2 linked regions of the Homo sapiens genome follow. The protein of the gene in region 1 purifies or fractionates together with the protein of each later gene. This does not show direct contact. Each region holds a gene or a part of one and is shown in the gene's direction. Other genes may lie near its edges.

Region 1 (7,001 bases):
AGGAGGGCGGGGGCTGCAAATGGGTCAGTGGCTGGCACCCCTCCCCAGGTGCTGAACCCCGAGACCAGTGAGGATGAGAATGACCGTGTGGTGGTGACGGACGATTCTGATGAGCGGCGGCTGAAGGGTGCAGAGGTGTTGCCAGCATGGGCCGGGCGGGGGCGGTGGGGAGTGGGACGATCGGGGAGGTGTGTGACGCGCCTGCCTCTACCACACAGGACAAGAGCGAGGAAGGTGAGGACAACAGAAGCTCAGAGAGTGAAGAGGAGAGCGAGGGGGAGGAGAGCGAGGAGGAGGAGCGCGACGGGGACGTGGATCAGGGCTTCCGGGAACAGCTGATGACCGTGCTGCAGGCTGGGAAGGCGCTGGTGAGTGGGGGAGGTGGAGGGGGGGGCGGCCGGGGAGGGCTCGGGTGTCCCCATGTTGTGTGCCTGCCCGAGGCCTGGCTGACCGCTGGGCCTCTGTCCCTCAGGGTGGAGAGGACAGTGAGAACGAGGAGGAGCTGGGGGATGAGGCCATGATGGCCCTGGACCAGAGCCTCGCCAGCCTCTTTGCCGAGCAGAAGCTGCGTATCCAGGCCCGGCGAGACGAGAAGAACAAGCTGCAGAAGGAGAAGGCTCTGCGGCGCGACTTCCAGATCCGGGTGAGCCTGGGGGCGGGCCGCACCCACCCCCGCCTCCCTGTGCGCCCACCCCCGCCTCCCTGTGCGCCCACCCCCGTGTTGCTGACCTGCCCTCCTGGCTGCAGGTGCTGGACCTGGTGGAGGTGCTAGTGACCAAGCAGCCCGAGAATGCCCTGGTCCTGGAGCTGCTGGAGCCGCTGCTGAGCATCATCCGGCGCAGCCTGCGCAGCAGCAGCTCCAAACAGGAGCAGGACCTTCTGCACAAGACGGCGCGCATCTTCACGTGAGCACGGGGGTGCAGGGCGGGCAGGTGTGGCCGGCAGCCCCCAGGCGCAGGAGAGCCAGAGCTCTAGGCTTGCTGTCTGCACAGGAAGGAGAGAGCCAAGCTTCCAGCCTGGGCCCCTAGCTCGCAGGCTCACTGCTCAGCCCTAGAGGCACACGTCACTTAGTGATTCCCACAGTCCTTGCTTCATCCCCGCGTTCTCCCGACACAGTGCCAACAGTGCCCTGGAGCTGGGGTCCATCCCTGCCCTTGACAGTCTCAAGTGGGGCTGTGCCAACAGTGCCCTGGAGCTGGGGTCCATCCCTGCCCTTGACAGTCTCAAGTGGGGCTGTGCTGGGGTGGAGGGGGACAGTGGGTGCACCTGTGGCAGGGGACACCCAACCCAGTCCTCGGAGGTGTAGTGTGCATGGGAGTTTGTCAGGCTGGGAGGCCTTGGGCAGGGCAGAAAGGGAGGAAGAGCATCCTGACGGGAGCTGGTCAGACACGCAGCTGGAAGGTCAGGCAAGCAGCGAGGCCACAGACCCCCGCACCCTCGCAGGCCCTGACCCTAGCGGTGCTGGAGGCCACAGAGGCATTATCAGCAAGAGCAGTGGCGTGGGGAAGGGTCTGAGTCTGGTTTGCCTTTTCAGAAACGGCTGGCAGCGTGGAGAAGGGTTTGGGAGGGGCTGTGCTGGAGGCAGAGGGCCCAGGAGGGAGGCGGTGGCAGGCGTGGGAGAGACAGGCAGGCACCTGGTAGACCTGCCTTCAGAGCTCAGGTGCTGGGGAGGTGAAGGCCTGGGAGCTGGGGCGCTGCGTGGATAGTCAGGAGGGGTGGGGAGTGTGACTGGCAGTGCATTCTTCACAAACCCAGGCCCGCCCGGGCCACGCCTTCTCAGATAGTTCTGCCAGCGTGCGTGGACAGTGTCGTTTGTTGAGCATCCTGCCTCTTGCCCCCATTATATCCCCGGCCCTGCAGGGCCACAGAGGGTTCTAAGCACATGAACCCTTGTCTCGCTTTACAAAAGGCCTGAAGGCCACTGCCCCATGAGAGACAAGTGTAGACAGGAGGGGTGCCCCAGGCAGGCAGTTGGCCCTTGGTGCAGCCTCCACTCAGGGAGCTGTTCTGTTCTCCCCTGGAGCGCCCCTGTCACCCCAGCACTCTGAGCCCACACAGCTTCCAGGCAGCCTGCAGGCGGCCCTGGGCCCTCCTCTGTGGCCTGGGTCGCCTCTGTCGTCTTCTAGGTCTGTTTCCCCACTTATAAAGTGGGACTTGGGTTGGCTCTGCTTGGCGGAGCAGGGTGGACCGAGAATGTTCTGACCAGCTCTCGTCCTCACCACCCACAGGCACCACCTGTGCCGTGCCCGGCGCTACTGCCACGACTTGGGTGAGCGCGCAGGGGCCCTGCACGCCCAGGTGGAGCGGTTGGTGCAGCAGGCTGGCCGCCAGCCCGACTCCCCCACCGCCCTCTACCACTTCAACGCCTCTCTCTACCTGCTCCGGGTCTTGAAGGGCAACACTGCTGAGGGCTGCGTGCATGAGACACAGGAGAAGCAGAAAGCTGGCACTGACCCCAGCCACATGCCCACGGGCCCGCAGGTGAGCAGGGCCTGGCCCAGGAGCAGCCCCAGGCATTTCACAGCCAGGGAGTGGAGGCCGGGACTTCCCCAGGGCCCAACCCTCAGCCTTCTGATGAAGGTAGGCCAGGCTCTGCTCCCATCCCAGGGACCCCTCTCCTGGCCTCACCCAGCTCGCTCTCCCCTGGCCTAGGCTGCCAGCTGCTTGGACTTGAACCTGGTGACCCGGGTGTACTCGACAGCACTGAGCTCCTTCCTGACCAAGCGCAACAGCCCCCTCACAGTTCCCATGTTCCTCAGCCTCTTCTCCCGGCACCCGGTGAGTGTTGGGGCCTGCCCTGCTTCCTCATGGTCCCTGCTCAGCCCAGCCTGCACCTCACAGCCCTTGTCACTCCCCACCAGGTGCTCTGTCAGAGCCTGCTCCCCATCCTGGTCCAGCATATCACGGGCCCGGTGCGGCCCCGTCATCAGGTGAGAGACTTCCCAGCTCCCAGCCCAGGGCCTGTCTGAATTAACCCGCTTAACCCTCTTCTGACTGGATATTGTGAGGCCCCAGAGCGCTGTCCTGGTGAGCACGGGCACAGCTGTCCCTGCCCCACTGGCTTGGCTGTGGGTACATGGTCTCTGAAGGGGGTGGCCGTGCCCTGGCCCCTGCCACACAGTGAACACACAGGAGCTGAGGGGGCAGGGCCAGCCTCACTCCCGCAGCCACTGCTGCCCATCTGGCCACACACAGGATGCCCCTGGTAGTGTCTGCTCTGGTGCCAGGGCTGTTGGGGGCAGGCTGGAGGAAGATGGCACTAAGCCAATAATGGGCAGGAATTGTCCCAACCTGAGGTCCCACCTCTATCCAGCTGGGAGGCCTTGGTGTCCCCACCTGCACACAAAGGCACAGGAGCAGGTAGTCACAGAGCCCAGAGCAGCAGGCAGCCTCACACGCTGCCCACAGCAGTGCCCAGCGGGCCCCCGAGCCCTCATGCATCCCTGAGCCGTGAGCACCCAACGTGCCAAGGCTCCTGCCACCCACCTTTGCCCACCCACAGGCCTGCCTGCTGCTCCAGAAGACCCTGTCCATGCGGGAGGTGAGGTCGTGCTTTGAGGACCCCGAGTGGAAGCAGCTGATGGGCCAGGTCCTAGCAAAGGTCACCGAGGTAACAGCCGGGGGGCGCCCTTTCCCCACCCCCTCAGAATCAGTTCTCCGGGAGACCGATCTCTGGGAAAGAAGTGAGGATTGGAGCCTGAGTCCAGAGTCGGGAGAACTGGGGTTGTCCCAGGAGACGGTCCCTGCCTCTGGGCTTTACTTCCGGCTGGGAAACAGAAAGGCTTTGAGCAGCTCTCCGGAGTGCCTCAGCCTGGCCACCCTTCCCTAGAACTTGCGCGTGCTGGGGGAGGCGCAGACCAAGGCGCAGCATCAGCAGGCACTGTCCTCCCTGGAGCTGCTCAACGTTCTCTTCAGGACCTGCAAACATGAGGTGAGGCGGGGGCCCAGTCCGCGGTCGTGTTCGGGTTCCTCTTGGGGGCCTTGGGGCCTCCCGGCCAGCAGTGCCATGCCCGGGCTGGACTGCAGGGATGGGGGTCATGTGGGGAAACTTCTCAGTGCCTGGGCCAGGGCTCTGGGCTGCCATTTGGGCAGTTACCAAACCATGGATGGGTGAGTGACTTGGGAAGGGACTGTGCCACCCTGTCCTCCTCCTGCAGGGCGGGGTGAGAGGGGGTGGGGTGGCACTGCCACATCCCGTGAGAAAGCCGAGAAGGGGCTGGCAGGGCTGGAGACTGTGGAAGGGTTGGAGAAGATTCAGGGTGAGCAGCCAGGTTTCCAGGCCTGGTACAGGAGTGTGGGCAGCCATCAGGGCAGGGCTGGGAGGCAGCTGGAGGTGGCCATCTGGGTCCCCCGGTCTGGCCCAGAGGGCGGGGTTTGGGAATCTTCAGCATAGGTGCTAGTCAGCCCTTGTGGAGGGAGAGCTTGCCAAGGGGGTGCTGGCAGGCAGAGGCGGGGCCCGGGACGGGGCCTTACAAAACTGGCTGATAGTGAGGAAGCCAGGAGAGCAGGGCTCCCGGAAGCTGGCGGATTCCAACAATAACCCATTCAGGATGTGCAGGAAGGTGGCAGGGTTGGGTGGGGAAGCGCTTTGGCAGCCCCGCGGTGATGGAGTGCTGGGGAGTGGCCCTCTTGGAGGTGGGTGGGCCCGGGCCACTGCTGGAGGGGAGGACACCGAGACTCTGAGACCAGGCCTTTGGCTATGGGAAGGAGGAGAACCAACACCTGGGGCGCGTGTTTCCTCCCTCGGTAAGAGACACGGATGACTTAACAGGCAGAAGGAGAGGCTGAGGCCCAGGAAGGGGCAGGGGTCACTGGTGAGGCAGCAACAGGGCAGAGGTGGGAAGACTGGGAGCCCGCGAGAGGCCCCGCCCTCTGTGGCCCCACAGCTCTGCCTTCCCACCCTCTGCAGAAGCTGACCTTGGACCTGACGGTGCTCCTGGGTGTGCTGCAGGGGCAACAGCAGAGCCTACAGCAGGGGGCACACTCCACCGGCTCCAGCCGCCTGCACGACCTCTACTGGCAGGCCATGAAAACCCTGGGAGTCCAGTAGGTTCTGGGAGGGGGACACACACCTTGGGTAGGGGCTGGGAACACCCTCACGCTGCTGCACACACACACACGCTGCACACACGCTGCTGCACACGCACACTGCACACGCATGCTGCTGCACACACATGCACTCAAGCGCATTCTCAGATGTGGGAGCTGTAGGACCCTCACAGGACCCTCGCAGGAGCCTCGCAGGACCCTCGCAGGACCCAGGGGCCTCGCAGGACCCTCATAGGACCCTCACGGGACCCTCATAGGGGCCTCACAGAACCTAGGGGCCTCAGAGGACCCTCAGAATCCAGGTGGAGGTAGCAGTCGCGGTGGCGGTGGCTGCTGCCCTCGATGGGCACCTTCTAACCTTGCTCACTTCCCTTCAGGCGCCCCAAGTTGGAGAAGAAGGATGCCAAGGAGATCCCCAGTGCCACCCAGAGCCCCATCAGTAAGAAGCGGAAGAAAAAGGGATTCTTGCCAGAGACGAAGAAGCGCAAGAAACGCAAGTCAGAGGATGGCACGCCAGCGGAGGATGGCACACCTGCAGCCACCGGCGGGAGCCAGCCCCCCAGCATGGGCAGGAAGAAGAGGAACAGGACAAAGGCTAAGGTCCCAGCCCAGGCAAACGGGACGCCAACCACCAAGAGTCCAGCCCCTGGCGCCCCCACCCGGAGCCCCAGCACCCCTGCCAAATCCCCAAAACTGCAGAAGAAAAACCAGAAGCCGTCCCAGGTGAATGGAGCTCCCGGGTCCCCCACGGAACCTGCAGGCCAAAAGCAGCATCAGAAGGCTCTTCCCAAAAAGGGGGTCTTGGGCAAATCACCACTGTCCGCGCTGGCACGGAAAAAGGCAAGGCTGTCTTTGGTCATCAGGAGTCCCAGCCTGCTTCAGAGTGGGGCCAAGAAGAAAGCACAGGTGAGGAAGGCAGGGAAGCCCTGAGCACAGGTACGGGCCCCCCTCAGCCCCTGCCTCCATCTGCCTGAGACGCCTATTTTTTTTTTTTTTTTTTAAACCATGATTTTAATACGCAAGCTGTTTCTAAGGCGCTGCCACTGGGGAGGGTGGCTGTTGCCGCCTGCCCGGGCATCCTGCTCTGGCAAGCACAGCCTGAGCCATTCCTGCAGGGGTCCCAGGGTGCAGAGACCTCCCCACCCCCGGTTCTGGGCTGGGACCCTGGCTCCAGGGCCATGTCCAGGGCTCTGGTGTTTGCCTGGGTTGGTGCAGGTTGATGTGCTGGCTGCAGGCAGGTGTGACCATCTCTCGTGCCTGCCACCTCTTTGCCCCCAGGCTTTTTTGCTGTGAGGGAGCCACCAGGGGGTGATTTAAATAGGTTTATTTCTTCATTTACAAGAGGAATATATTTGGCTTCTCTCTTAAGACTCTGAGATTCACAATCAGCAGCTCTAAAAAATAAAGGAGCAGTTTGGCTTCCGGAAGGAAGAGGAGGCAACACTCGGACCTGGTTCTTGTACAACAAGAAAACATCGCTGGGGCCCCGCTGAGGCTGGAGTGGGGGTGGAGGCTGGTCTTTGGAGGATGCCACCCCCACCCCATCCTCTTGTCAGGCCCTCGGGGTACCCCAGAGCTTGGTGGGTGAGTATTCCACCTGCTTACACACCACTGAAGCCACAGCCAGCCAGTAACTAAGGGGCAAGAAGAGCATTGTCCAAGCTGGCTCTTGGGGGGTCCCCCATTGGCCACAAGGCCTCACCCCCCACCCCACCCCCGCACCAGAACCACCTTGATTGCAGCAGAAGTGCAGGGAGTGGGTGACGCAGGGGGCTAAGCTCCCCCAAAGCGGGTTGGGGCTGGTGTGAAGTTGGCAGCTGCATCCTGGTGTGTGCATGGATGGGAGGTGGGTGATCGAAGGCCTGGCCCCCCCCTGGGGTCACTTGGTGGAATGCCAGCAGCCAGTGTTTGGGTAGGGGCCGCCTCTCCCGGGGCCTCAGCCTCAGCTCTGG
Region 2 (7,632 bases), on another chromosome or scaffold:
GTGAAACCCCGTCTCTACTAAAAATACAAAAATTTGCCAGGCACCGTGGCGCGTGCCTGTAATCCCAGCTACTCGGGAGGTTGAGGCATGAGAATCGCTTGAACCTGGGAGGGAGGGGTTGCAGTGAGCCGAGACTGTGCCACTGCACTACACTCCAGCCTGAGCGACAGAGCAAGACTCCATCTCAAAAAAAAAAAAAAAAAAAAAAAAAAAAAAAAAAACACACACACACACAAGAAGAGAAGCAGGTTTGAGAAGATGATGATTCACGACGGGACTTGCCGAGGATAAGGTCCTAATAGGACTTTTCCAAGACAGGTGAATATGTCTATGAGTCTGAAGACAGGAGGTATACTAATCTGTACTAGTTATCTACTGATGGATAACAAATTACCCCAATTTAGTGCCTTAAAAGAACACACATTTATGATATTACAGTTTTTATGGGTCAGGAATCTGGGAGCAACCTAGCTGAGTGGTTCTGGCTCAGGGCCTCTTGAGTTTGCAATCATCTCAAGGTTGGACCCGGGGAGGATCCACTTCCAACCTCACTTGTGTGGCTGCCCAAGTGTCCTCACAACATGGCAGCTGGCTTCCCTCTCTCCAGGGCTGCCTTACAAGTAATGAGGGAGGGAGTAAATGAGAGAGGGAAACAGGGAGAGAAAGAACATCAAAGATGAAACTACGGTCTTTTTTTTTTTTTGAGACGGAGTCTCGCTCTGTCACCCAGCTGGAGTACTGTGGTGAGATCTCGGCTCACTGCAAGCTCTGCCTCCCCCGTTCACGCCATTCTCCTGCCTCGGTCTCCCGAGTAGCTGGGACTACAGGTGCCCGCCACCAAGCCCGGCTAATTTCTTTTTGTATTTTTAGTAGAGACAGGGTTTCACCATGTTAGCCAGGATGATCTCGATCTCCTAACCTTGTGATCCGCCCGCCTTGGCCTCCCAAAGTGCTGGGATTACAGGCATGAACCACCTTCCCCGGGCCATGAAACTACAGTCGTTTTATAACCTAATCTCAGAAGTGATATAGCATCACTTCTGCCATATTGTTTCATAGAAGCAAGCCACTAAGTTCAGTGTATACTCAAGGGGAGGGAAACGAAGCCTCATTAGTTGAGGGGAGAGGTATCAAAGAATCCATAGATAGGACACATCTTTAAAACCACAATATCACAACCAGATTATTAACTTACCTAACGCATAAATCATCACTACCTTTTCTTCTCTACTGCCAGTTCAAAAACCTTTTATCTTTACAATTTCTCCAAAGTGAGTATAAACCCTCAGCTTGATAATGAATTCATTCCTTTACCTACTTTCCAAACTGCATCTCCCATTCCTCCCCTCTGCACATTCCTGCTCTAGCTATGTACTGCTTCCAAACACTTCCATACACTTTCACCAGCATTCATGCTGTGTCCTTGGCCTACAAGTATGGTTCTCAAACTTAAGTTCAGGTGAAAGAACATCTGATAGCCTCCATATTCTCAAGAATACTACAAAACATGGATCAACAAAGCCCAGTGTAACAATTCATTAAGCTGTGCTAAAAGGAAACCACTCTTACTAATAGATTCTAGAATACACAAAGGGAAGCAGGTGCCAATGATTTCAGAACATTTCTTCTACAACTTGATTAAACACAAGGCTATTACTAGAGATTAGCAGAACATCCTTTCATGGAAGGAACACCTTTTGAAAGCAATTGAAGGAAAGCCTATTACTCTCATTCCTCCATCTCTCAAAACTTTATATAACTAGTTGCAAAAAGTCTGAAACCAACCTGAAGGCGCCTAAAAAAGTTCCTAAATAAACTGTAGTGTTGTTGCATGGTGGAACACCACAGAGCCGTTTAAAAAGATGAGGCAGAGCTTTGTGTACTGACTTGGAACAATCTCCAAGGTATATTAAGAAGAAAAAGCAAGGTGCGGAACAATGGGTATACTAGGCTACTATATGTCTTTTTCTAAAAAGTAAAAGTTTGACCAGGTCCAGTGGTTTATGCATATTACCCCAGCACTTTGGGAGGCTGAGGTGGGAGGATCCCTTGAGGCCAGGAGTTCGAGACCAACCTGGGCAACATGGTGAGACCCCTCCCTGTCCTCATCTCTACAAAAAAATTGTAAAAGTTAGCAGGACGTGGTGACCTGAACCTTTAGTCCTACCTACTCGGGAAGCTGAAGCCGGAGGATCTGTTGAACCCAGCAGTTCCAAACTGCAGTAAGCTATAGTCATGACACTACACTCCAACCTGAGTGACAGAGCCAGACTCCGTTTCTTAAAAAAAAAAAAAAAAAAAAAAAAAAAAAAGGCTGGGCACAGTGGCTCACACATGTAATCCCAGCATTTTGGGAGGCCAAGGTGGATCACCTGAGGTCAGGAGTTCCAGACCAGCCTGGCCAACATGGACAAACCCCGTCTCTACTAAAAATACAAAATTAACGCCGGGCGCGGTGGCTCAGGCCTGTAATCCCAGCACTTTGGGAGTCCGAGGCGGGCGCATCACGAGGGCAGAGGTCAGATCGAGACCATCCTGGCTAACACGGTGAAACCTTGTCTCTACTAAAAATACAAAAAAAAAAAATTAGCCGGGCGTGGTGGCGGGCGCCTGTAGTCCCAGCTACTCGGGAGGCTGAGGCAGGAGAATGGCGTGAACCCAGGAGGCGAAGCTTGCAGTGAGCCAAGATCGCGCCACTGCACTCCAGCCTGGGCGACAGAGCAAGACTCCGTCTCAAAAAAAAAAAAAAAAAAAATTAGCCAGGCATGGTGGTGCATACCCGTAATCTCAGCTACTGGGGAGGCTGAGGCAGGAGAATAGCTTGAGCTCAGGAGGCGGAGGTTGCGGTGGGCTGAGATCTCGCCATTGCACTCCAGCCTGGGCAACAAGAGCGAAACTCTGTCTCAAAAAAAAAAAAAAAAGTAGCCGGGCATGGTGGCGTCCGCCTGTAGTTTCAGCTACTCGGGAGGCTGAGACAGGAGAACTGCTTGAACCCGAAAGGGAGAGACTGCAGTGAGACAAGATCACTGCACTCCAGCCTGGGCGTCAGGGCAAGACTCCCTCTTTAAAAAAAAATTGGCCGTGGTGGTTCACGCCTATAATCCTAGCACTTTGGGAGGCCGAGGCAGGTGGATCATGAAGTCCAGGAGTTCAAGACCAGCCTGGCCAGGATGGTGAAACCCCATCTTTACTAAAAATACAAAAATTAGCCGGGCGTTGTGGCGCGTGCCTGTAATCCTAGTTACTCGGGAGGCTGAGGCAGAGAACTGCTTGAACCCGGGAAGCGAAGGATACAGTGAGCCCAGATCGTGCCACTGCACTCCAGCCTGTGCGACAGAGCGAGACTCCATTACAAAAAAAAAAAAAAAAAAAAGGAAAAAAATTAATTAAACCCATCCAACAAGAGAAAGGAGAAGTATCTCCTAAACATGCCTAGAACATCTCTGGAAGGTTCCAGGAGACACTGGTAAGGGTACCTCTGGGGAGGCGGGTGGAGTGGGAGGAAGACATTACAAAGCAAACCTGTCCTACCCAAGGGCCGCGTGCGGCCCTGGAGGCCAGGCTTTGAATACAGCCCAACACGAATTCGTAAACTTCCTTAAAGCATTACGAGATTTTTTTTAGATTTTTTTTTTAAAGCTCGTCGGCTATCATTAGTATTAGTTTTATATATGGGCCCAGGCAATTCTTCTTCCAGTGTGGCCCACGGAAGCCAAAAGATTGGACTCCCCTGTTCTAAGGTATTCCATTTGTCAGTTATCCAGCCTCCACTCCTAACCTGTTTGTTTAGCGACAAGGTCTCACTCTACTGCCTACGCTGGAGTGCAGTGGCGCGGATCAGAACTCACCGAGCCTCGAATTCCTCAAGATCCTCCATCCTCCGCCTCCCAAGTAGCCGGGACTACAGGCGCGCACCACCACGCCGGCTAATGTTTATAATTTTTGGAGAGACGGAGTCTCGTATATGCACGGACTGGTCTCCAACTCCTGGAATCCCTCCGCCTCGGCCTCCCAGAGCGCTGGGATTCCAGACGCCAGCCACGCGCACGACCAGCCACGCTTATTTGTACAGGATCTTACCTCCCGCCTCTCTGCGAGACCAGAAGCTCCTAAGAGACTGGCCCAGACTCATCTTTCGGTCCCTCATGCTGCTTAACGTGGCAGGTCGGGTGGCTCCGGGTGGCTCCCGTGCCTTATATTTCAGGGACTCCTCACCAGCCTGGGGTTGGCGTCGCCTAAAGTCAACGGGCAGGTGGGCAGTGGAGCCAGGATTCCGCGCTCTGCCCATGCCACGCGCGGCCTTCCCGGAGGCGGGGACCGTGGAGTGTGGAGGACCCCACTGGGCCTCCTGACGGGACTCTTCTCTCGCCTCAAGGCGCTTTCTTGATTTCTATCTAGTAAGAGTGAGAGGACACCCAAGCTACTCCCCACAGCTCATGGAAAGCTGGAGAAAAGCGGAAGAGCAGGTGCCTCCTCAAAGAAGGGATTCTGACAGCAGCCACTGCCCCGGAGAGCGAAACCCCACGCTCTCCCGGAAATGACGCACAGAGGCTCGGTTCCCGCCCCCTCGCTTCCGGGGCCGGGCTTGCTCGCGCGTGCGCACCAGAAGCCAGCAGTGGGGTTGCACACGCGCCTCTTCACGAGGTGGAAACAAGATGGAGGATTCGGCCTCGGCCTCGCTGTCTTCTGCAGCCGCTACTGGAACCTCCACCTCGACTCCAGCGGCCCCGACAGCACGGAAGCAGCTGGATAAAGAACAGGTGAGTGGTTCCTGGGGAGGGTGGCTTGGAAGCAGTGTGGCGGTTACCTCGTGAGGCGCAGGGTGCCGGAACCCGAGTGCGTGCTCGGCGGACTTCCCCGGGGCTGTGGGACGGTCGCTGGCGGGCCGTGTGCCTCAGCTGTCTCTCCCCTTTACACACGTGGGTGGGCGCCTGCTTTCCCTGGTCCTGCGGCCTGGCGCTAGTGAATTGGGTTGCAAGTGTGCTGTGGAGCTAGATGAGATAGACCTGGCGACCTGGCTTAGCTTCCCTATCATTAGCGCTTGACCGAATCGCTTAGTTTTGCAGGTCTGTTACCCGTTATTTAAAGTGGGCCCTTCGGCTCCCCGTTATCCAGGATCGGGAGAGGTAATGAGTGTAAAGCGCTTTGGCCTGGTACATGGTAAGAAGGTGCTCAGTAGGCCGGGCGCGGTGGCTCACGCCTGTAATCCCAGCACTTTTGGAGGCCGAGGCGGGTGGATCACCTGAGGTCAGGAGTTCGATACCAGCCTGGCCAACATGGTGAAACCCCGTCTCTACTAAAAATACAAAAATTAGGTGGGCGTGGTGGCGGGCGCCTGTAATCTCAGCTACTCGGGAAGCTGAGGCAGGAGAATTGCCAGGAGTTCTCAGTAAATGCTAAATGCATTTTGCTTTGCGTTTTTCCTGGGATTACTGCTTTCATCATTGAGGGCAGGAGGGGCACGTTTCCCTCTAGCCCAATCTCTTTAAGTAGAAGAGGTGCCCTTCTGCACACAGTACTGGAAGTGGGTACTTAGGCATGTTTGATGGATTCTTAGATTTCTGTGAATATAAACTGCAGGATCCTAATAGATACGGTTATGGAGGTTACCCCTTGAAATAGAAGTTGGAAGGGAAAAAATAGAAGGTGTGGGAGGGGGCAAATGCTAAATTAGATTGAGAACATTTCATTTATTTGTGTAAGTTATTGTGAAAACATTTCACTTATTTGTCTAATTTCCACTTTGCAGGTTAGAAAGGCAGTGGACGCTCTCTTGACGCATTGCAAGTCCAGGAAAAACAATTATGGGTTGCTTTTGAATGAGAATGAAAGTTTATTTTTAATGGTGGTATTATGGAAAATTCCAAGTAAAGAACTGAGGGTCAGATTGTAAGTTGTGATTTTCTACCTTTGCTGTTTTTATCTGTGTGTTTATTCTTTGTAACTCGAACAATTGCATCATGGTTACTAATGGAAACTTTGCAAACTTATAATAAAAATCTGACGTGAAGTAAAACAACTATGTCCAAAAGAACCATAGAGGCTTGATGTGGTGGCTCACACCTGTAATCCCAGCACTTTGGGAGGCCGAGGTGGACGGATCACCTGAGGTCGGGAGTTCAAAACCAGCCTGGCCAACATGGTAAAACCCTGTCTCTCCAAAAATACAAAAATTAGCCAGGCATGATGGCGGGTGCCTGTAATCTCAGCTACTCGGGAGGCTGAGGCAGGAGAGTGGCAGTGAGCGGAGATGTCTCCATTGCACTCCAGCCTAGGCGACAGAGCAAGACTCTGTCTCAAAAAAATAAAAAATAATAAAAAATAAAAGAACCGTAGAAATTCAGATGTGCTAAAATTTTCTAGAAATTTCACCAGTTTTCTTAGAGCTTGGTGGACAGCTAACGTAATCAGGTCTGTTGAATCGAAAACGTGGTGTTCGAAAGAATAAAGGTGGAATAAGTTAAACAGCTTTATTTTATTTTATTTTTTTATTAGAAACTGTTATCTTTCCATGTCAAGCAAAAATTCTTTGGGGCTACAATTTATTCCTTTGTACAGAGACTATTAAAAACTGCAGTGAATTTCTGTCTATGGAAAAGAAATCCATGGTGATTATACAGAATGCTTCTTCAGAACATAGGTTGTAAGCATAAGAAATGAGTTAAACCCTTGTATTTTATTTTCTGTAAGATGTGGCATAATTGTGTTTGCTGGTCCCTCTTGGTTTAGTCCATGTTTTTGGTTTCGATTCTTTTATCTCTCCTTTTTTTTTTTTTTTTAAGAGACGAGATCTTGCGCTGTTGCCCAGCTGGAGTACAATAGTGAGATCTGTGTTCACTGCAACCTCAACCTCCCTGACCTGACTCAAGTGATCCTCCCACCTCAGCCTTCCAAGTAGCTGGGACTACAGGTGCACACCACCATGCCTAGCTAATTTTGAAATCTTTGTGGAGATGAGGTTTCACTGTGTTCTCCAGGCTGGTCTCGAACTCAGGCTCAAGCAGTCCTCCCTCTCAGTCTCCCAAAGTGTTGGGATTACAGGCATGAGCCTCCATGCCTGGGCTGTTTCAATTCTTAAAAGTTATGTTATGCTGGGCATGGTGACTCATCCCTGTAATCTCAGCACTTTGGGAGGTGAGGTGGGTGGATCATTTGAGGCCTGGGAGTTTGAGATCATCCTGACCCAACATGGCGAAATCCCATGTCTCCTAAAAATACAAAAATTAGCCAGACATGATGGTGGGCGTCTGTAATCCCAGCTGTTTGGGAGGCTGAAGTGCAAGAATCATTTGAACCCAGGAGGCAGAGGTTGCAGAGACTCCAGCCTGGGCGACAGTGAGACTCCCATCTCAAAAAAAAAAAAAAAAGTTATGTTGGCTGAGTGTGGTGGCTCACACTGTAATCTCAGCAGTTTGGGAGGCTGAGGCAGGTGGATTGCTTGAGCCCACAAATTCAAGACCAGCCCAGGCTATGTGGCGAAACCCTGTCTCTACGAAAAATACAAAAATTAGCTGGGCCTACACCCAACTGGTACGTGCCTGGAGTCTCAGCTATGCTGGAGGCTATCGTGAGCTATGATCACACCACTGCACTGCAGCCTTGGGTACTGAGCAAAACCCTGTCTCAAAAAAA

The links. The genes of interacting proteins can lie anywhere in the genome.
Region 2: the proteins of MYBBP1A (region 1) and RSL1D1 purify together in Homo sapiens (affinity purification with mass spectrometry; 2 studies listed by BioGRID and IntAct, with this or other methods). This does not show direct contact.

What each region holds. Positions count from the first base shown.
Region 1 is NC_000017.11:4,538,393-4,545,393, reverse strand, and holds the end of MYBBP1A (myb-binding protein 1A), read left to right. Parts: intron 1-48; coding exon 49-135; intron 136-218; coding exon 219-368; intron 369-472; coding exon 473-643; intron 644-747; coding exon 748-905; intron 906-2,228; coding exon 2,229-2,481; intron 2,482-2,652; coding exon 2,653-2,778; intron 2,779-2,861; coding exon 2,862-2,930; intron 2,931-3,502; coding exon 3,503-3,610; intron 3,611-3,829; coding exon 3,830-3,931; intron 3,932-4,909; coding exon 4,910-5,046; intron 5,047-5,426; coding exon 5,427-5,979; 3' UTR 5,980-6,418; coding exon of another isoform or gene 6,419-6,454; 3' UTR 6,455-6,490; downstream 6,491-7,001. UniProt on the Homo sapiens protein: May activate or repress transcription via interactions with sequence specific DNA-binding proteins. Repression may be mediated at least in part by histone deacetylase activity (HDAC activity).
Region 2 is NC_000016.10:11,848,536-11,856,167, reverse strand, and holds the start of RSL1D1 (ribosomal L1 domain-containing protein 1), read left to right. Parts: upstream 1-4,625; 5' UTR 4,626-4,655; coding exon 4,656-4,760; intron 4,761-5,749; coding exon 5,750-5,889; intron 5,890-7,632. UniProt on the Homo sapiens protein: Regulates cellular senescence through inhibition of PTEN translation. Acts as a pro-apoptotic regulator in response to DNA damage.